Homo sapiens: one gene and its partners. The protein of the gene in region 2 interacts with the protein of the main gene of each other region in a biochemical or structural test. Each region holds a gene or a part of one and is shown on either strand. Other genes may lie near its edges. The genes, in order: TCOF1, KBTBD8 and NOLC1.

Region 1 (7,733 bases), on a different chromosome or scaffold from region 2:
CACTCCAGCCTGGGCAACAGAGCAAGACCCTTTCTTTAAAAAAAAAAAAAAAAAAAAAGAGGGTCTTTTTGCTCTGGGAAGTATGTCTGCTTGGCCCTGCCAGTTCTGTCCCAAACCTTCCAGAGACAAGAAGAACAACCAATCCCAACTAAAACCTTTTTAGACAACCCCTTTGAAAGGCCAGAGGTGGAATGTTCCAAGCTAGCATTCATCCAGCTCCCAGCCTCTCTGGCACTATCCATGCCTAGAGGCCATGAGACAGGGTTTTCCCCACCTTTGACCTTTAAAAAAGCTTTCAAAGACGTGGCCAGCCAATCTTCCCAAAGCACGAATCACAGCCCAGACACCTGAGGCATCCAGGTGGCATGACCACAGTCTACTAGTCTGCTGGGAGAAGACTGGGCCCAAATGGTACCAGTCCCTTGGTGGAAGCAGAGGGAACCAGGTGGAATCCAGGCCTTTGGAGCAGAGGCCAGAGGGCCCAATGTCTCTGTAAATGTCAATAAGCCAGGATATCAAGTACTCTAATGAGGCTAAGCAATGTGGGGCACGGGTGGACTGAACTAATCTCGTCACGTCTTCGAACTTCAGATTTCTTCTTAACATGGGGACAACAGCGATACCTACCTTGCAGGCTGCTATCTGGTTTGAACAAGACCATCTGTCAGTGCCCAGCAGTGAGCCGGTAACACTAAGATTTCAAGAGTCAGTTTCCCTCTGCTCCACCTCAGGCAAAGTGTCCTCCTTGCTGTCCTCAAATGTGTCAGGCCACCCTGCCTCTAACGCGGCCTTGCTATTCTTCTTGTCTGGAATGTTCTCTCCCCTGTTAACTACACAGCTCACTCCCTCATTTCCTTCAGGTCTCTGCCCAAATGACACCTTCTCAATGAGACTTCCTTGACTACCCTACTTATAATCGAAGTCTGACATCCCTTATCCCCCTTGCCTGCCTTTTATAGCAAGCACCAACTATCATTGGATATACTATATCATTAACTTATTAAACTTTTTCTATTTGTCACCTGTCTGCTCCTACTAGAATGTGTGCTCCATGACGGCAGGATATTTTGCTCCAATGAAGATGGGTACTATCTCTTGCTCCCCTTATCTGTGAAGTACCATAGCTGCGGTAGGAAGAGCAAGTGAGGTTCAGAGAAACTGGGAAAAGCATACATAACGTCTTAGGGCCCATCACCCTTTAGTCCCTCCAGGAGGTTCTGAGAGCAAGCATTAGGAGCAGAGCCTACACCACAGGGCAAAGGGATCTGACTACTTAGGATACTGTCTCACCAGTTCAAAACTCTCCATTGGTTTACCACTGCTCTTCCAAGGAAGATCAAACTGCCCACCAGACCACTCCAGCCAGCCCCTGCCTCCATCTCCCCAGGGGCATCTGGCCCTTGTACTTCACACTTCAGCCACTATGGACGTTTTTTTTTTTTTTGAGATGGAGTCTCGCCTTGTCACCCAGGATGGAGTGCAGTGGCTCAGTCTCAGCTCAGTGCAACCTCTGCCTCCTGGGTTCAAGTGATTCTCCTGACTCAGCCTCCCGAGTAACTGGGACTACAGGTGCATGCCACCATGCATGGCTAATTTTTGCATTTTTAGTAGAGACAGGGTTTCACCATGTCGGTCAGGCTGGTTTTGAACTCCTGGCCTCAAGTGATCCGCCTGCCTCGGCCTCCCAAAGTGCTGGGATTACAGGCGTGAGCTACCGTACCTGGCCTGCTATGGACTTAAAAAAAATTTTTTTTTGAGACAGTGTCTTGCTCTGTTGCCCAGGCTGGAGTGCAGTGGCATGATCATGGCTCATACTGTATCCTCAAATTCCTGGGCTCAAGAGAGTGGACTTTCTCCAGGCCAGTGTGTACACAAGTTCCCTCCCACCACAAGGCATTTACACCTCAGCTATTCCTGACCAGGGCAATCTGCCATCCATCTCTCTTTTTTTTTTGAGGCAGAGTCTCGCTTTATCGCCCAGGCTGGAGTGCAGTGGCACGATCTTGACTCATTGCAACCTCTGCCTCCCGGGTTCAAGCAATTCTTGTGCCTCAGCCACATGAGTAGCCAGGATTACAGGCGTGCGCCAACATGCCCAGCTAATTTTTGTATTTTTAGTAGAAACGGTGTTTCACCATGTTGGCCAGGCTGGTCTCGAACTTCTGACCTCAGGTGATCCGCTAGTCTCGGCCTCCCTAAGTGCTGGGATTACAGGCGTGAGCTACCGTGCCCGGCCCATCCCTCTCATTCTTAACACTTATTGCGGTGCTAAGCATATAGTCACTTTTGTGATTCTTTGATTTGTCTACCTTACTAGAGTGTAAGCTCCAGGAGGGCTGAGAGATGGTGCTCACCATTCGAACACCAGGAAGCACCCTGAGTACCGGATTAACAGTTGAATTAATCAAGTAAGAAATGACTGTACCACGAGTTCGAGTACCAAAGCTGACCGTCTCAGTACAGACAATCGCTAAAGGCCTGAGTTCCAGCTCAACTAAGAGGCTGTAGGGTCCCTTTTCCAGGCGCTCCCCCGAGGGGCTGGTCGCAATCCACCCCCGAGACTCGCAGCAACCTCCTTGCCCCAGGGGGGGCCGCGCAGAGCCTAGCCACGTGGCGGGAGACTTAGGAAACTTAAAATACCCGCTACCAGGAAGGGCGTGGAGGTAAGGGAAGCGGGAATTACAAAGTTCGGCCCCTGCGAGCACACTTTCTGGCCCAACCCACTGCCCGGATGAGGAAAGTGAGGCCCAGGGGAACTGAAGTCGCAGTGGGAAGGCAGAGATTGCGGCTCCTCCGGTACCCCTGGCCGCGCCGTCGAGCACTGCGGGACCCGGCTCCGGGCGCCTGCCGGGTCGCCTGGGGACGGGGCGCGGGCCGCGGGCCGCTGATCTCCACATCTTGCACGCGGCCCTCGCACACGGCCCACGAACGCTTACCTGGCCGCTCTGCTCCTTCACTTCCCGCGCCGCACGCACATAGCCAGCCCGCAGCAGATGGTGGTAGATCAGGGGAAGTAGCTCCCGCCGCTTCCTGGCCTCGGCCATACCCGCGACCCCCGGCCGGCCGGCTACCTGCACGCCCCGCCTTAGTCCCCGCCCGCCACTTCCCTCGCGCCCTTAGACCTCGCGCGCCACACTTCCGGCTCCTCTTTCGCTCCGGCCGCGCGGCGCGCCGGGAAACGTAGTCCCCTCTCCGGGAGTGGCCGGCCCCGCCCCTCAAGGCGAAGGGGGCGGAGACTCGTGATCAACAATACCGCCCATTGGCGCGGAGCATGCGGGGCTAGACAGGGACCCGCCCCCGGGGCCGGCCGGGACTTGGACGACTCTCTTTTAATCCTTCCGGCTGGCTTCTTGAAGAGATTTATCTTCCTTGTTAATTCTCTGATGGCTGGGTCTGCGTTTTACTCATCTCTGAACTCCCTAATCTGGATCTTTCTCTAGATCCGAACTTTGTACTGCCATTACCTGCTCATTTATCCATTTCGCACGGTTTTTGGTGCCCATGAACCAGACACGAATTGCCAGTTTATTCATTGATTCATTCGCTAACTGAACAAATCTGTAATAAGCACCTAACTTGGGCTAGCACCCGGCTAGGCTAGGGGGATTCAAAAGATGCATAATACATGGCAGTTGCCCTCAAAGCTCACAGAGACGACTGTCCGTAACCAAGCAACTATAGTTCAATATCTTGTGTGCCTTGTCAGGGACAGATGCAGCCTATGGGCGCCCCAAGGAGGAGCACCGAACCCCAGAGAGATATCTAAGCTGAGGCATAAAGACACCCGAAATTGCTGGGTGCAAAGGAGAGGACTGGCAGAGGGCACTGCATGAGTCTAGGCATGAGAAAACACCCTGCTATTGCCTGGGAACCCTAAACCCAGAACCCCTAGTCTGCGCTGCTGGGCTGTCCAGGTGGGGTGGGGTGAGGTGGGGAAGAGGGAACAAATGAGGGCACATGAGGATGAAGAAGTAGACAAGGCCTACAACTCCCCCACCCCCAACAGAGTTTGGACTTTGCTCTGAGGGCATTAGATAGTCTCTGACTGGCTTTTCCGAGGAGGTTGACCCTGTTTTGTGTTTTTAAAAGATTGCTAAAACCAAAGCACATACCATTAATACTAAATGTGAGGCTGTTGTAGTTGTTGAGGGAAGGATGGCAGGGAAAAGGTGAGGTAGGCTGGAGAATGTTAGAGTGAGCTGTTCTTAACTTCACCGACCCATTGAGAATCTGAGGGCAGCATGTTTCTTACGGGCGCAGGAGTCCCTAACCCTAGGAGGTCCAGGTATGTGGTTATCTTTGTCTTGAACTTGAATGGAAAATGTTATGTGTCTGTACACATTCAACATTTCCCATTTTCTTGAGCAAATATTTATTGAGTACCTACCATTGGGGATGGAATAGTCTCTACTCCTATAGAGCTTACAGTCTAGTGATGGAATTGTCTCTACTCCAATAGAGCTTACAGTCTAACGGAGGAGACACATACTAAACTAATAGTCATACAATACAGTGTTACAAACAGCGGGTAAGTGCAGGAAGGAAAAGGATAGTGTTTTCTTATGTAATAATATAGTGTTTAAAAGCTGCACTGGAGTCACACTGCCTGGGTTCAAATTCTGGCTTTGCCTCATTAACTAGGTGACTTTGGGCAAGTCACTGTGACTCAGTTTCTTTATCTGTACAATGGAGATAATTATAATTTCTACCTCACTGGGTTGTCATAAGGAGTAAATGAATTCTCAGCAGAAATGCTTAGAGGAGCTCTGAACAATAGCGCTCTCTGTGTGCGTGTGTGCTATTATTGTGAAAGCATATAACAGGAAGGAGGGATCTATTTTTTTCTTGGGAGTTAGGGAAGGATTCCCTGAGAAATTAATGGTTATGAGGAAACCAGAACTGTGTGTAAGGGAGAGTCAGAGAGAAGAAACCTGAGCAGAGGGAAGAACCTGTGCAAAGGGCCTAGGGCAGAAGGTACAGCTGAGAGAATAGACACAAAAAGGCCTTTGTAGCATAGTCCGGAGGGAGAGCAGGGGGACTGGGGAGTGTAGAAGGTGGGCAGAGGGCAGACTCCATGTGAAGGATTGGCCACATCAGGGTTTTTTTTCCTCCATCCTAAGAGCCATTGGAAGCCACTGACGGTGTAAGCCCAAGAGGTACAGGATGAAATCTGAATTTTACTGTGACCTGTGTGCCTGCCCAGTGGAGAGTGGAGTGTGTCTGGTGGGTATGAGTAGATGTGGGAAGACAAGTCAGGGTTAGGAGTGCAGGCAGGCATCCAGGGAGAAGACAGTGTATGTGGGGGGGGGGGGCGGGTGGTAGGTGGCGGGGGCAGCGGGGAGGGTGCTGGTGGCAGTGGAGTTGAAGAGAGTGGAAGGTTCCCAGAGTTAATCAGGAACTAAAGTTTTCACAGAGGTGTGTTGGAATGGGAGGGGAAGGAAAAGGCAATGTCAGAATGGACCTTGAGGTTTCTGTGCAAACAAGTAGGCAGTATTTTTCACTGAGATAGAAAAAACTAGAAGAGGACTGAGACAGGGGGGTGGTTTGATTGAGGAGAGGAGGATGTGGACAGAGAGGTGAAAGTATATATTCTATGTTAGACATCTTGAGCTTGAAATGCCTTACAGTCACCACATGCAGATGTTGAGAAGGTTCTTGGAAACCTGGGTTTGGACGTGGCGTGGAGGTCTGGGCTAGAGATGAAGATGAGAAGTTGTCGATAGACAGATGATAATTGCGGCTGTGGATGAGGAGAAGCTTACCCAGGGAGAAGAATGTGGAGAGAGAAGAGAGATGGCCCAGGATGAAGTTTTGAGGTACATCTACAGATTAGGGCTGTGTACAAAAGGATCTGCCTGCAAAGGCTGATCAGGAGTGGCTGGACAGCTTGGAGAAAGCCCAGGAGAGTGGGCTTATGGAAGGAGGCCAAGGGAGACATTTTAGAAAGCTGGGAAGACTTGATGGAGGGAATGCTCTGAGAGGTCAGATAGGAGGAGGGTGCAGCCCTGGGCTTTGGTTTATGGACAGGCGTGGAGATTGTTGGGGACTTAGGGAGGGCTATTTATGTGTGGCATGATGGAGGGGGTCAGATGGCAGTGGTCTGATGAGTGCAGGAGGGATGAGGGAGGCAGTGGGTCTTTCGAGAAGTTTTTGTATAAAAAGGACGAGAAAGATAAAGTGCTAGGGCCAATATGTATGTTAGGGGAGGTGTGTTTCAAGGTAGAAGAAACCTGAGATTTGTTTAAAAGTGAATGGCAGATCCAGGAGAGAGAGGTTAACCAAGAGTGTAAGAAATAGGGGAGATAATCAGCGAGTAAAGTTCTCTCAAGCATGTGCGAGGGGCTGGGATCAGGCATGTGGGTTGGGGGGGTTCGTCTTGGGGAGGAGGAGGGATGAGTTCTCTAGAACCCAAAAGCAGGAACAAAGAGAGGATGGGTGCAGATGTAGATGTAGGTTTATAGTGGGATGTTAAGGGAGATTTCATTTTGAGCTTCTATTTTTTCTGCAAAGTGGGAGGCAAGGTCTTCTGCTGAGAGTGAAGAAGAGGTGGTGAGGAGTTTGAAAGAATGATCATTCAGAGTGTTGAGAAGCAACTTGCCCACAAAATCCCCAATTGCCTGACAGCCTTGGCTCCCCAGTTGAGGTTGGTGGTCCTTAGTGTATGTGTGTCTCGTCCTGTCCTGCTGAGTGAATTCCTCCATCAGGGCTCACCTACCCAGCTGCAGGCTGGGGAGATGTATGTACATAGTGGGATTTATCCAGGCCTAGGGCTTTGCCAGATGGGTGGGGAAAAAAGGGCACAGGAGTCTAAAGTATTGGCAAAGAGATGCTAAAATTCTGGGTCCTGGGATCTACACTGGGTAGCGAGGGAAGCAAGGCAGATGGATGTTTGCAGGGAGAGAGTGGAATCCTTCACGGGCCAGGCCTTATGAGGGACCCCTGAGATCAGAGAGGGCTGGGAGCTGGAACTGGTGGTGACACCCAGGTTTCTGCTTGGGTGGCTGGATGGGTGATGAATGTACATGATGAGCATACAAACCATTGTAAGATCTAAGATTTTTTTCCACCAACACCTCCAGGAACCAGTTTTCATTTCCTCGAGGGCATCAAGGCCCCATTTGAGAATGCATGCCTTAGTAGAATGTAAACTCCCTGAAGGCAGACTTACCTTTGCCTTGTTGGTTGCATTATTTCCAACATTTTGCACAGTGCCTGCATACAGCAGGCACTTAATAAGTATTGGCAAGTGCAGGAATGGTTACAGACCTCTCCTGAAGAAGAAGGGAGGGCAGGGCAGGCAAGGTGCTCACTGAGTTTAGGCCTGGAGGCAGGAATGTGGAAGGCTTTGGAAGGCAGTGGGGAAGGAACTGGATTGTGCATCCTTGGCTGACCCTGGAAGAAATGCAGAACTGGAATTAAATTAAAGAACGAAAACAAAACCACACCAGGATTGTCTAATACCTTCTGTCTGGCAACAGGTTGTTTTTGTTTTGCTCCTAATAAAATTCATTGTCGGCACTTATGCTTTGTCCTCGGCTCCTGGGAGGCTGTCTCTTCTGTGGACAATTTCTTTATTTCCCTCATTTTCCAAATCATACCCTTCACTGAATTGCCTCAGGGCCCAAGCACAAAATTAGAACATTAAACTGATAAAATATAACATGGCAACTATTAAGACAGCAACAAACAAAACAGTGCATTAAAAAAAAAATTAGCCTCAGAGCATTTCTCTA
Region 2 (7,083 bases):
GAAACAGCCATTCCAGATTTCCAGCCGTTCTAATTCTTCCACTAGTGATGCAAGACGTAGAAACATTAAGTACGATTTTCTACATCCCACACAGGAAGCAGCGCTGGTACCAAGAAACTTCAGTACAAAAACCTCTAGCAAGAGATCAAATTCTAATCCTTGAGGTTTCTAGCCAAATATCTTTATTTCAATGCACATATCGTATCCCCAGAAAATTTCTCAAGTATTTTTTACTCCTTTTAAAAATTGACTTAACAAAATTAAAGAATTTAAGATTTTAAGGAATCAAGAAAATTAGAAATCTATCATAGCATACTTCTTTTAAAGTAAAATTTTTTTCCAGGTCTTCAAAAATAAAAAATGAAACTGCAAGGTGAAAATGTCATACTTATGTAAAGTTACTAATAAGTATACTTACTAAGTATTATACTTAATAAGTATACTTAATATGTATACATATATCATATTTATTATGTATGCTTACTAAGTATTATACTTAATAAGTATACTTAGTAAGCATACATAAGTATGACATTTAAATGATATAATCCAGATTATTAAATTTCAGTAAGATATAGACATTTTTACTTTGCAGTTTTTGTTTTGTTTTGTTTTGTTTTTGTTTTTACTATTCAAATGCAATATACAATAAAAATGTTTTAAAGGAAACTGTACCAACTCTTGTTCCTTAAGAGTCATATGGCTACTAAGAAGCCTGGCTCTGTAATCAAATGTAGCCTCTGCCATTTACTTGTTGGATAGATGATTTAGGCAGGTTATTAAAACTCAATCTCACTGAGCCTCAGCTTCTTCATAAGTAAAATGGAACAACAACTATGCAGAGATAGGATTATAAAGATTATATAAGGCAATACATGTAAAGTAAGCTTAGCCTAGAGCTTGATAAGTAGTAACTGTGACATATATTTAAACATACAAATGACCTAACCATATCTAATAGATAATCTGGGTAAGTGAATCTCACTAGAAGTTTCCATTACCAGGCCAAACTTCATACCTTCTGCATATGTGAGTTTTTTTTTCTTTCCAGCTCACTGTCTTGCGATGATTAATACTTAGTAGTCCAATGACCTACCCTAGGCAAGTCTAAACGGTTACATCACAAGCATCAGACTGAAGTGACTATATTTAACCCAGTATTCTGAGAAAGAGGAACCAGAAACTACTGTTGGAACATTATATGGTTATGTGCCCTATAAAGGTAAGCACCTTCAAAAGGAAAAATCACATTCAGAGTGTGGTTGATAACTTTACTATTATTTATGCACCACTTGTGAATACTGAAAGGCTTAAAGTGAGCATTTGACACAAAAGAAGTTAAGCCCATGCAGAAAACTGCCTTTTCCACTCATCTTAAAGTAGGAAGTTATTTTTCAGACCCAAGTTTTTAAATTTTACTTTTAAAAGTTTTATAGTAGACAATATAAGTAAAAACAAAAACTTCGTTTAACATACTTCTAGAAATCTTGGATATTATTAATTTGGGGCCTTAGGCACAAAGAAACTATATTCATTCTTGCTTTGACCCCCATAGCATTTAAACAATCTATTGAGTGGTAATTTGTTTTTGAAGGAACATGCTACATGTTTTAAACTATTTTATAAAAGAGTCCCATACACTAAAGAAACATGCATTATGGATAACTTTTTGAAAGAAATTCTAGATCAGCACTGTCCAATAAAATTGTCAATGATGAAAATGCTGTATTTCTGTGCTGCCCAATATGGCAGCCACTAGCTGCAGGTGACCAGCAAGCACTCAAAAAGTATTTAGTGTACCTGGGGAACTAAATGTTTTATTTTATTTAACTTATAATTTAAGTTTAAACAGCCACACATGGCTACTGGCTTCCATACTGACCAGCACAAGTCTAGATTTTCTGGTCATTTACCTCAAACACACACACACAGGCCCACTAACTTAAAAAGCAATCACCCGAAATCTAGAAGAATCCCTCAAGTCAAAAGAAGGTCTTAGTTAAGAGAGGACTTGTTTTCTAGTCTCAAGAAACAAAGTCATTGGTTTCATTTCATTATCGCATCTCAATATAAACATCAAGTGGACAATACTGAGGGGGAAAGGGAGCTTGGTGCAGATACCAACAGAAGTTCCTACCATCATCATACCTGAAGTAAGGGCTGATTGCAGCAAGAACGTTTCTATGACAGGAAAATGTTTTCCCGTGATCCACTTCCACTACAATGTCTGTCAACTGTCCTTCATCGTACATTGTTTTGAGTTGCTTAAGAATACTGCAAGCATGGAAGGGGTCCATGGCATCGCTGGCTGGGTCTGAAGATGGAATCCCATTCGGTGTTGGGGAAGACTTACTTAAATCTAGGAGGAGAAAAATCGTACAACTACAAGAAGTGCCGAGCCAGTTACGGCATCGCGGGATTTTTCTGTTTGTGTGTCTGCTTGCTAGGCTTTTTCCCCCTACAAGATATATACAAATGTCTGTGGATATACGCACGACCTCGTGGGACCGCGAGTTAAGGATCTGGGAGACAGAGGGCGGAGCGCGATCGGCGGAACAAGTTCAAAGGCCAGCCTGCTCCTGCGGAGCCCGGCGAGCCCGGCACCCGTGCTCGCGGAGGAAACGCGCTCGCAGCCCAGGAGAGGCGTCTGCGCGGACTCCGCCGAGAGCCGAGGGCAGAGCCTCACGAGGGAAGCTCGAACAACGGCGGCCGCCGGTGCCCCCTCAAGCCGCCTCCCGCTGCCTCCTGGGGCGCAGCGCCGGCGGGTACCCAGCCTCCCCATCCCGGTCCCGCCGGACCGCCCACCGCCCTCCGCACCATTCATCCTCCCTCTTCTCATTCCCCTCCACCGCTTCATCCTTCCCTCTAGCTCCGCACCGCTACGTCCTCATCCCACTGCCTGTGGCCGGCCCCGGCCCACCTTCCCCCTCACCTCCCTCCACGCCGCCCTGGCCACCACACGACCCACCTGCCGACGCGGCCATTTCTCGATGGGGCCCCGACTCCAGCTATTTAAAAAGGAAATGTCATTTCGCTTCTCTAGCTCCCGGGTTCCGGCTCTTCTAAGCTTCCCCTGGCCAATGGGGTGTCCTGTGCATCTGGCTCCACCCCTAGCCTCCGAATTCCTGGCGCTGATTGGCCACGACGCGAGCACATGCGTGTCGGGAAATGTAGTTTGATTGCCCCGGCTCCCGCGTGGTCCGGGTCGGGCGGAGGCCCAAGCCGGGAATTCCTATTGGCTGATTCGGATGGAGGTGGAGAGCAGGGAGCTGGCCAGCCTGTGGCCGTCGAGCGCGCAGTGCCTGCCGGGAGAGGTAGTCTTCTGGCGGAGGAGAACTGTCATTCTGAGGGGCTGGGGTAGGGAAAGCTCTTCAAGTGCGAATTTCCCCATTTTAGGCCTCTCTCCTGGCCCCCGGCACATTTTTTTACCTTTTTCTTCTTCCGTAAACTTCCTGCCAGTGACTAGCTTCCGGTATGAAATCAAGCTCTGCGTGAGAGCTGTAAAACCAGAAAAATGTGGAAATGGACAGGAGGGCTGTTGTCCAAAAATGCAAAGGAAATCTGACGTCCCACCCTGAAGAAAAATATCACAAGGCCCAAAAGCAAGGCGTCTCTGATGAGTCACCTATGACACCCAATTGAAATAGCATCGCCTTGGCCGGGTGCTCTGGTTTCCACAGATTAACTTGGTCTGGTTACAGCGGCTGCTTAGGATCTTCAACTCCCACTGGTGCCTTGCTTTTCTAGCACACCCAGAGAACACCTGTTCCTCACGTGAACATTACAAGGGGATCCAAGATGCTTTACTTTTTGCTCTTGGGAAATGGAGGGGATACAATACTAAGTATTCCGGAATTTCCTTTGAAAAAATACCGGAATGCCCTGAGCCCGGAGCCAGGGATGATTACTGAAGCCCTGGCTCTTTAGTCACTATATGTGAGAACTGACATAAGACCTTTCAACCCCTGAGCGCTTAGATCCTTCATCTGTAACGTGAAGTAATAGTAATCCGTACTCCATGGATTTCATAGGCTGCAACCTTTTGGAAAGAAAATCAAAATTTTACTGTTGACGAATTTTTATTTACTCATCTTGTGTTTCTAACATCTAACGGGGTGCCTGGCACATTATAGATGTTTCATATTTTAAAAATAAATGTAAGGTGCAAATGAGCTAACATTGGGAATGCTATTTCTAGATGTTAAAATGTAAGGAAGTATCAGCGAATGGGAAGAATTTCTAGTAGACATATAGTTAGCCCGTGTGCATAACTTTTCTAGCACTGAAAAGATCAAACCGTTGAACTTCTTGATAAAGAAAGGATCTTGGAATTTAAATTGTGATTGAGAAAGAGAAATAATTATGAAAAACAATTCAGTTCTGTCTTCTAGGTCTGCTGAGAAATTTAGAACTTAAAATACTATAATCCCATGCAAGTTAACAGGAAGTGGTGTTTCCTCATGACTGGGGTTTCTGCATATACATATGCACTTATAATTTCTTCTTTGTGAATGTCCTGTATGCACGTTTCTGGATAGATGAAATTGACTTAATTTTGGTTACTCATAACTTTATTTTTTCGTTTTTATGATGTTGCTTTCTAATTTATTAAAATGGTAGCACTTTATGACAATATGGTTAGTATTGAGGAAAAAAATGGCGTTAATCCTTAGGGTTTGACAACATCTGACGATATTGCAAATAAAAATACAGGGCATGCATTATTTGAGAAATATTTAAACTGAAATATCATTTGTTGTTTATCTGAAATTTAAATTTAATTGGGTGTTCTGTATTTTATCTGGCAACCTTTTCAAATCTGTTAAAATAGAGGAGTTTTGTTTGTGCTTTGTTGTTGTTTTGTAGCCATCTATCTATTTAAGCCTTAAGAAACTTGGCCAATTTTTTAAAAATTCAATTCTCAACTTAGTAACAAACAGACTTGACAATATTGTTTGATTAGTGAGAAGACAGTGTTCTGATTCTTTGACCCACAAAGATTTATAAATTGGAGATGCAGCAGAATACAAAGAACAAAAGCCAATCTAAAAATAAATAGAAAAAAAATTATAGGTAAAAAGTTGCCATTTATATGACACTGTAAATGGACTCCATTCTACTGGGCAGATGGCATTACATAGTAAAGATTTAATCATCACTAAAATGCATTTTTAAAAAACACAGAATATGTAGGAGGATCTCGAAATTCAGTCAGTTGTACCACAACAATTCTTTCTCAATGATCTGTAAGAATACTGGGGAGATTCCTTTTCAGGATTGATACTAAATAGCCAAAGGTTACAGCTTTGTTTTCAAACACCTCTAATTTGAATTTTAGTAAAAACCTCCTGAATCTACTGCACATCTGGAAAGAGCAGCAAAAGTAAACCAGTTTTCATCTTAAGGTATTAAGTACTATATTGCAATTTACTCCTATATTTAAAGTTTAAAGTAAAATCAATTAAGGATGGAAACTGAAAAACTGAACCAGAATATTTGAAGGTCCTATATTTAGTTCAAATTAGACACTTAGAGCTTTATTATTTTAATATTTTTTTTTACCTAGGAATCACAAGCAAAGAGAATTGCTATAATCATGGTTGCTTGAGAGAAGAAAAGTTTTTACGTTTAAATTCTAGCAAAAATGAAGGATTATGAAAGCATCAAATTTGGAAAATGAGAAATTGAAGGCTCCTTGTTTTTTTCTGCTTTCATTTCAAGAGAATGACTTTTAGCAATTATCAGCTATACCCAGGCTACTCTCAATAATACCACACAACACAAGAATGATAGCAACTCTGATGAAGAAGGTGTAAAAGAAAATAGAACTTCACTTCTGCAAATCAATTCTGCAGTTTTCCAATTTCCCTGTTCAGTACTGGTTGGGGCTGTGAAATTGACCAGAGCTATATAAAATGAAAGTAAAGACAGAATACTTGAAACTCATACCTTTTAGCAACTGACATCCTTATATATTTATACTTCTCAGCCTACAGCTACAACCTTCTTGATATTTTCAATGTGACTTTTTTTTCTTGCTTAAAACTTCTGCATTGGCTAGATAAATGAAACAACAAAAGTGATTATTCAATATAAATTTAATATGACATCAGATACACAAAGTTTTTTAAAATTTCTAAAACTTTATATATTGCCCATGATTTAGTTTCTTTAAATACAAAACTCTAAATAGATACTAACATTAGGTTTACTGATTGGGCACCACTGGGCTTTGTTGTATTTTTAGTTTTTTATTCCCTTTGAGGTTATATGAGGATTCAACATGGTAATAACTAGAAGATTGCATTTCATGAATCACTGAATTTGATCATACTGGAGGATATTAATGTGCATTAATTTTTAAGTATTTGGAATTTAGCATATACATGAAAAAAAGACTTTGAAGCTAGTGGCAGTAATATTCAGTTCCTCAGAAATATTGATTGCCTCCTCCCACAACCTGCATTCTAAGAAGGCACTGTCTGAATCAATGTTTCCTATACAAAACTAGATAGATAGATAGATAGATAGATAGATAGATAGATAGATAGATAAAGATTAGATGGATGTAGAGATATGAGATTCCTAATCTCAAGGATCTTATGGTTTATCTGTGAAAATAAAACTTATTCCCATGAAAATCAACTAGAAAATGAGAACTAAGGGCAACCCCTAGTTAGCATAAAATAAGTATTTCCAACAATTAATATTAAGGATTTCGAAAGAGATAAGAAATTCTGTTCAGCTGGTGTGGGATTTAAGCTGAGCATCCAAAGAGGATACACCATAGAACTATTTGCAAAAGTGATGTGGAGTACTTTCTTGCCTAATTGCTTTATCTTGGCTTGACCCAGAAGGTAAAGCATTCACTTTAATATTGATAGGGCTTAATTTAGGAATAGAACAAGGAAAAGGAATTAATGGTTGTGTTACCTACTTTATTGCACTTAATTTCACCTTTTAATTAAATTTTCTAAGAACAAAGTTACAATGAAGTGACCAAAGCCTTGAGAATTTCAATAACCTGCCCGTAGTCTTTTAGGGGTCTTTGGCTCCAAAGCCAACTGTCTTTTGATAACAGCA
Region 3 (8,056 bases), on a different chromosome or scaffold from region 2:
GCAGGAGGATCACTTAAGGACAGGAGTTCAAGACCAGCCTGGGCAAGACAGTGAGACCTCCATCTCTCTCTCTCTCTCTTTTTTTTTTTTTGAAATGGAATTTCGCTCTTGGTCGCCCAGGTTGGATTGCAATGGCACTGCGGTTGCTTGGCCTGTGGTGGCTAAACGCCTGTAATCCCAACACTTTGTGAGGCTGAGGCGGGTGGATCATCTGAGATCGGGAGTTCGAGACCAGCCTGACCAACATGGAGAAACCCCGTCTCTACTAAAAATACAAAATTAGCTGGGCGTGGTGGCGCATGCCTGTAATAATCCCAGCTACTCAGGAGGCTAAGGCAGGAGAATCGCTTGAACCCAGGAGGTGGAGGTTGTGGTGAGCCGAGATTGCACCATTGCACTCCAGCCTGGGCAACAAGAGCGAAACTGTCACAAAAAAAAAAAAAAAAAAATTAGCCAGGTGTGGTGGTACATGTCTGTAGTCCTAGCTACCCCAGTGACTGAGGCAGGAGGATTGCCTGAGCCCAGGAGTTCGATGCTACAGCGAAGTATGATTGCATCACTTTACTCCAGCCTGGGCGACAGAGTGAGACCCTCTAAAAGAAACAAACAAACACAAAACAATACACAGAAGAGTACAGGATCAGGCCAGGTGCAGTGGCTCACGGGCCTGTAATCCCAACACTTTGGGAGGCTGAGGTGGGTGGATCACCTGATCAGGAATTTGAGACCAGCCTGGCTGGTATGGTGAAACCCCATCTCTACTAAAGATACAAACATAAGCTGGGCGTGGAGGCGGGCGCCTGTAATCCCAGCTATTTGGGAGGCTGAGGCATGAGGCTGAGGCACAAGAATCGCTTCAACCTGGGAGGCAAAGGTTGCAGTGAGCTGAGATTGCACCACTGCACTCCCGCCTGGGCAACAGTGAGACTCTGTGGTCCAAAAAAGAGTAAATGATCAGAGTCAGTACAGATGGGAACTCACCTTTGGACAAATTACCTTATCTCCCTGAGATTATTTTCTTTTCTATAAAATGGAGATAATACTACACATCTCATTAAGTTATTGAGAGGATAAGACATAATGCATGTTGGCCGGGTGCGGTGGCTCACACCTGTAATCCCAGCACTTTGGGAAGCCGAGGCAGTAGATTCTTGAGGTCAGGAGTTCAAGAGCAGCCTGGCCAACATGGTGAAACCCCGTCTCTACTAAAAATACAAAAAAAAAAAAAAAAAATTAGCCAGGCATGGTGGGGCACACCTGTAGTCCCAGCTACTTGGGAAGCTGAGGCAGGAGAATCACTTTAGCCTGAGAGGCAGAGGTTGCAGTGAGCTGAGATCGTGCCACTGCACTCCAGCCTGGGCGACAGAGCCAGACTCCGCCTCAAAAAAAAAAAAAAAAAAAATTAAATGCATGTGAAGGGCGTAGCATCTGACCCTTAGTTAGCTCTTCACAAAGATTAGCTTTTCTCACATAAAACCATTTCAGAATCCTAATCCTGAGGCCGGGCACGGTGGCTCGCGCCTGTAATCCCAGCACTTTGAGAGGCTGAGGCAAGTGGATTTCTTGAGGTCAGGAGTTCAAGACCAGCCTGGCCAACATGGTGAAACCTCATCTCTACTAAAAATACAAAAATTAGCCGGGCGTGGTGGTACGCGCCTGTAATCCCAGCTACTGGGGAGGCTGAGGCAGGATAATCACTTGAACTTGGGAGGCGGAGGTTACAATGAGCCGAGATCGCACCATTGCACTCCAGCCTGGGCAACAGAGACTCCGTCTCAAAAAAAAAAAAAAAAAAAAAAGAATCCTAATTCTGAAATGTCCAATTCCATCCAGTCCACTGTGAAAGCACTCTCCGCAGTCTCCTTAACAGTCAACTCTAAACAGTTTCATTAAGAAAGCAGTTAGATCACATGGCAGCCTGTCCCAGCTTAAGGAAGTTTTGAGGCTGATCTGATTCTTTGCTTTCGCAGCCTGATTCTGCTAAAAGTGCAAGCCATCCTTCCTAGTCATGCTATCATCCCTGCTGAAGACCCCCCCTCTCTCCTCTCTCAAAGTGTCTTCCCATGCAGGAATGTCCGTTGATGTAGATTACAAACCTTTCACATTCCTGGTTCTCTTACTCTTACATGTGTTTGGAGCATCCTAAATTGCCATAACTATGGTACAGCTTTCACTTTTACAAGATTCCTCTGTACCAGCACTGAGATTGCTACTCTTACACATCATCTTACTGAAACTCACAAAAATCCTATAAAGTGGATGATGACATCCCTGTAGAAAGACTCAGAAAGGTTAAATAAACTGCCCGGGTCACGTATCTAAAAAGTGGCAGAGCCTGGTCCCAAACCTAGGTTTGTTTGATTCAATTAGCCAAAGCTCCAAGCCCACTACTATGCCTACTTGGTAGGGCTGTTGATGACTCTCAATTCTCAGTGTAACTCAAAACAAAACTCTGCTTCTACTTTCATTCATTTTCTTCTTTACAAACGAAAATCCCAGACTTCATTCTAAAGAAATTTCACTTGCTTTTGAATCCCAGTAAATGTGACTGAGGCTAAGGTCAAATCACGGTTTGCCTCACCCAACGAAAAGCCCCCCAGAAGATGCCGAAGAACCAACGTCCTCAGTGGAACAAGACTCTACCTCCCCGCTGCACTCTGCCAGCCATGTGGCTTGGGGCCACGAGGCTCCCACGCTGCCGCCGCTGCACAGGTCACAAGAAAAAAGCAACAAGACTCAGCGATATCTACTCAGACATGGAGGAAGGTAAGCGACCGAGGCCGCAGGCTTTCTCTGGTCACTGCCGAGGGGTCGGCGTAAAGGCCTTGCAGACACTGGACTGGCGGACCCCCAGACTTCCCCACCTGGAAACCTAAGCACGTCAGGGCCTGAAGCCTTGTGGTCATCTCAGCCCGGTCCCCGCCCCAAGCCCGGAACTCACAGCTCCTGTCGCTTTGGCGAACTTATTGGCCACCTCTGAGAGTTGGTTATCGCGCAGGAAGCCGAGCACGAGGGGATACAGGTCGCTGGGAACCACGCGGCGAATGCCGGCGTCCGCCATCCTCCAGGCAATACGCGTCACTACCGTTGTCGACGCAGCACGACTCAGGAACCCAACAGGGGCAGTGGGCGGGCCTGTGTTACGTCATTGCGCCGCGCGGGCGCATAACGGAAAGGGTGGGCTCCACAGGGCAGTCCCACCTTCACCTCAGAGGTAGGGTAGACGGGAAATCTATAAACTCTTTCCGGTCCCACGCGTATCGCCATCTTGGTTAAGGGCGGAGCCCACCGGCCGCCAGCTTGTGGAGGCGGAGCTCTGACGTCAGGGATCACGCCCTCGGCGTGGCGGGAAAACTCGGGACTTCCCGCGCAGTCTTTCTGGGGGAGGTACCTTTTCTCAGAGCAGCGGTTTCCCGCGCCCCTGCTGGGACTCGGATTCCAGAGTAATGAGTGGACAAGCGGGCTCGAACAGTTGTTCTACAAGATCTCCCAACCGCCCCCATGGCGTACTGGCACGGCCAATGGATTCTCGCCCTTCATCTTCACTGCCTCCAATACCCAGGGAGGCCCTTTCTGATACCATCCCAGCCTCCAGACTCCTGCCTCTGCTGCAGAAGATCCTTCGGGTTATCCGTCGTGAGGGTGGGAGGTGTTGATTTCCCAAGCTGCCCCTCCCATCTCCCTTATATTCCGCCTTAGGTCAGCTCCATGAAGAGGAAAGGTGTCATGCACCAAACCTGAATCACACACAGCAACAATCTATTCAAGCTGAAGAGATTGTTGAAAATAACCCTTCTTCCTCCGGGATCAGAGTTCACACTCTGCCTTTGTCATGAGTAACTCCAGTATCAATGCCTTTGTCATGAGTAACTCCAGTATCAATGCTCAGACCTACCAAGTTAATTCCAAGTTCTGCCACATTCCAGATATTAGCAGTTAGCAATCCCTTCAATCCTACCCACTACCCCTTGGCTACCTCCCACTAATGCCGCTCAGGAAAGATAAGGATCCTCATGGGAACACACCCCCCTCTCCTATATAAAATTGGCCAGGCATAGTGGCTCACAACTGTTATCTCAACACTTTGGAAGGCCTAGGTGGGAGGATCCCTTGAGCCCAGGAGTTAAGAGGCCAGCCTGGACAACACAGTGAAACCCCCCTATCTCTACAAAAAATTTTTAAAATTAGCCAGGTGTAGTGGCATGCACCTGTGGTCCCAGCTACTTGGGAGGCTGGGGCAGGAGGATCAACTGAGCCAGGGAGGTCAAAGCTGCAATGAGCTATGATCCTGCCACTGCAATCCAGCCTGGGCCACAGAGTGAGATCCTATCTCAAAAATCAAAAACAAAGCTGGGCACGGTGGTTCATGCCTGTAATCTCAGCACTTTGGGAGGCTAAGGTGGGTGGATCACCTGAGGTCAGGAGTTCAAGAACAGCCCTGGCCAACATGGTGAAACCCTGTCTCTACTAAAAATACAAAAAAAATTAGCCAGGCATGGTGGCGGGTGCCTGTAATCCCAGCTACTCAGGAAGCTGAGGCAGGAGAATCACTTGAACCCGGGAGGCAGAGGTTGCAGTAAGCCAAAATCGTGCCACTGCACTCCAGCCTGGGAGACAGAACAAGACTCCATCTCCAAAACAAAACAAAAAAATTCAAAAACAGAAACAAAAAACTCCACAGTTCCCTCTTCCCCACGCTTCCTGTTCTACCCACATGCATGCATTATTTAAAACATTTGAGCACCTGCTGTGCCATGCAGTGTGCTCAAGCTATTATAAAATGATGAACATAACTGACATGATGAATGTATACACCTGTCGCAGTTTAGAAAACCTTTCTTTGGAACAAGTGTGAGCTTCTCTAGGTCCTTGTTATCAAAATCCCTTCCTGGACCAGTATCATCATCCCATTGTCAGAATCTACATTCTAAAAAGATCGCTAGATGATTCAAATTCCCTTTAAAGTTGAGAAGCACTGTCCTAAATGACTCATTTTAGACAATACATCTGAGGAACCAAGGTTCAAATCCAGTGGGATTTTTGCACCTGACCAGGGAGAGGCATGTCCCTGGACCATGTTCAGATAGGAAAAGTGAATACATTTGGCATTAGCACCATATAAAGACGCACAACAGCAGTTGGGAGTTCTCTCTAGTTGATGTTTATTAGTCTGCATAGTGACTTATGTTCCAAACACTGGGGATCCCCTCAGCCCCTCCTATCTTACATAGGAATGCAAGTTAACTTGTTTCAATACCTGTTATAAAAAAACAAATACCCCTTTTAAAAAATCTGATTCAACATATTTTTTATTTCACTTTTTTCCATTTCTTTATAAAACAGTCATCTCACTAGCAGCTCTCTCCCCTAGAGTAGGGGAAGGGGGTGGAGGAGGTTGGGCACCTCCAAAGGAGAAAAAGGATAGCAGGGAAGGGCCCAAGGTTACCTCCTGAGGTTCTTCTGGGCCTGTTTCAACAATGTGTCAAAGTCAAGAGAATCAAATTTGCTCTTTACAGGTGCTGGGTCAAAGTCTTCCCGGTTGGAGTCTATAAAGGTAAAGACAAACTTCAAGGTCTCTGACCACACTTCCCAACCACAGGGTCTGCAAATGGCTAGCTATCTCCCATCCCAAAAACGGATGGAGTGAAAACTGCTCTAATTTTAAGTCAAAGAGATAGGAGAGTCCCCAGTCCCCATTTCTCCTCTCGTCCCACCCCTTGGGTCTTTTTTTTTTTTTTTTTTGAGACAGTCTCGTTCTGTAGCCCAGGCTGGAGTGCAGTGTTGTGATGTCAGCTCACTGCAACCTCCGCCTCCTGGGTTCAAGCAATTCTCCTGCCTCAGCTTCCCGAGTAGCTGGGATTACAGGTGCGTGCCACCACCTCTAGCTAATTTTTTCTATTTTTGGTAGAGATGGGGTTTCATCATGTTGGCCAGGCTGGTCTCGAACTCCTGACCTCGTGATTTGCCTGCCTCAGCCTCCCAAAGTGCTGGGATTACAGGCGTGAGCCACCATGCCCAGCCCCCTTGGGTTCTTTGTATGTCAAACTAAGGTAAGTCTGCCTAGCCCCACTCACAAAGGGTTAGGAACCCTTCTGGGGAGGGGATGAAGCATTCCAAAGCTTTAGGCCCTCCCTCCACTCACCAAGATCAGAATAGCTCCTCTTGCAGAACTGCCTTCGGCCCCCAAAGCAGAGATCAAAGGGCTGCTCATCTGCCTGCCGCAGCTTGTGGCCACTCTCAATGGCTGCAAATGCCTCCTCAGCATAGCGATAAGTGACGAAGCCGTAGTTGTCCCTAGTAGGAGGAGAGTGAGGCAGGGGCTGGAGTGGCTATATGGGCCCATGCCATAGAGGAGACACAGCATCCCAAGGTACAGAGGTGGTTCTTCTCATTCCCAGTGGCCAACCCTCTGACTGCAGAAATGAAGGTGCCCCATATTGCTCAGCACACCAGAGCAAGGAGGCAAGACAAAGAAACACCAAGGTAGATGAATGGGATAGAAAGAACATCCTGAGCCTGGGGCCCAAGCTTACCCTTGGACACGGAAGTGGATGGTGCACTCCTCAATCTCTCCAAAAACGGAGAACCTCTGTTTCAGCTCTGATCGAGTCATGCGGCCAGGTATCTTTCCAATGAAGACCACCCTTCTTTCTTCCTATGTTTGGAAATGAAAAAAAATCAACACACCATTAGCCAGGGCTACAGCTGCAGGCAGCTCTCTGAGCTCAAGGCTCAGGGGGTAAGCCCCATCCTCCCATGATCTGTTCCTCTACTCACTATTGCACGCTCCTTTTGTAGCACTCTTTGCCTTTGGTAATGGTCATGTGAACGATAAGAGCTGTACCTGACAAAAGAGGGTGTCATCAGCCCCCCAAACATAAGACAATTCAAGACTCAACTCTTAGGCACCTGCATCCCAGGTGCATGGCGCTCCCTGAACACATGCTCACCGCCGCCTCCTGTCACTTCTCCGGCGGGGGGATGGGGATCGTGAGCGGCTTCGAGAACTGGATGATGAGGATGAGGAAGACGAAGAGGAAGATGATGACGAAGAAGAGGAAGAGCATCTTCGAGAACGTCCAGAGGAACTACAGCTGGACCTGAAGGATAAGAGGGCATGCAGGAATGCTGGGAGTGGTTCAGGTATACTCTGCTTATCTCACCCAGGCCCCAGTCCTGCCTTTCTTTTAGGAAGCTCAGGACCAAAGACAAAGCAGAGTAGAAGAGGTCTAGAAGAACAATTTTCATTCAGAGATGAACAAACTGAGGCCCTTCATGGAACTTTAGGTGTACCTGGAATGTTGTGAAGTGTTTTGGAAGAGATCACATTTTCAATTGTGCACTTAAAAATTGAAAAATATTTAACAAATCAGAAAGAGGAAGAACAATAAATGGAGACTCAGGGAGAGGGGTGAGCCCTAGGTCTCACACCCAGCTATCTGTGGTGCTGGGGCCAAGCCTGGGTCTTTTGGGTTACTATTGCTCCCCTACCAGGTCTCACTGAAATACTGTGACCATGAGAGAGGTTAACTGCTAGACTTGTAGTATGGGCCAGTTCTGAAGACATATATCATCTCCAAAACCCAAGAATTCTTCATTAAGTGGGAAAACTTGGTTACTGAGAAAAAAAGATACTGCCAGGAAATAGATGAGGCCATAGTGACACCCAAAGGAACTGCCCCAGACACCTTCCTCAGCAGATGATTAAGGGAAGAACTATTTTCTATTAACAAGTAACCCACTACCTCACATAGCGCCCAGAATACCAAAAATGAAGGCTGATACAGTATGTGAAAAAAATCAACATGGTCAAAATCAAACCCTAAAAGTCTCCCCAAGGCAGGTCTCAAAGAAGCAGGAGACCTGACACCCCAAGCTCCAACAGGGGACAGAAGCAATTGTCTCACAGCTTGCCTCCTTCAACAATCCAGGAAAAGGGAAAACACAAAAGCCAAAGTCAGAAATAGAAGCCTTAGCGCCTGAAAGTACCAAAGTCAACGGGTAAAAGCTTTCAAAGTAAACCACAGAAGTACGTGAACTTCCTAAATGGAGAGGA

Evidence for each region.
Region 1: the proteins of KBTBD8 (region 2) and TCOF1 form a complex in vitro, tested with the Homo sapiens proteins (2 studies listed by BioGRID, with this or other methods).
Region 3: the proteins of KBTBD8 (region 2) and NOLC1 form a complex in vitro, tested with the Homo sapiens proteins (2 studies listed by BioGRID).

What each region holds. Positions count from the first base shown.
Region 1 is NC_000005.10:150,353,058-150,360,790, reverse strand, and holds the start of TCOF1 (treacle protein), read right to left. Parts: upstream 3,095-7,733; 5' UTR 3,045-3,094; coding exon 2,937-3,044; intron 1-2,936.
Region 2 is NC_000003.12:66,994,257-67,001,339, reverse strand, and holds the start of KBTBD8 (kelch repeat and BTB domain-containing protein 8), read right to left. Parts: upstream 3,034-7,083; 5' UTR 2,985-3,033; coding exon 2,969-2,984; intron 2,360-2,968; coding exon 2,149-2,359; intron 1-2,148. UniProt on the Homo sapiens protein: Substrate-specific adapter of a BCR (BTB-CUL3-RBX1) E3 ubiquitin ligase complex that acts as a regulator of neural crest specification.
Region 3 is NC_000010.11:102,147,416-102,155,471, reverse strand, and holds the start of NOLC1 (nucleolar and coiled-body phosphoprotein 1), read right to left. Parts: upstream 3,084-8,056; 5' UTR 3,062-3,083; coding exon 2,942-3,061; intron 1-2,941. Other genes in the region: PPRC1 (peroxisome proliferator-activated receptor gamma coactivator-related protein 1), read right to left, coding at 5,443-5,546, 6,143-6,294, 6,534-6,655, 6,778-6,844, 6,951-7,100. UniProt on the Homo sapiens protein: Nucleolar protein that acts as a regulator of RNA polymerase I by connecting RNA polymerase I with enzymes responsible for ribosomal processing and modification.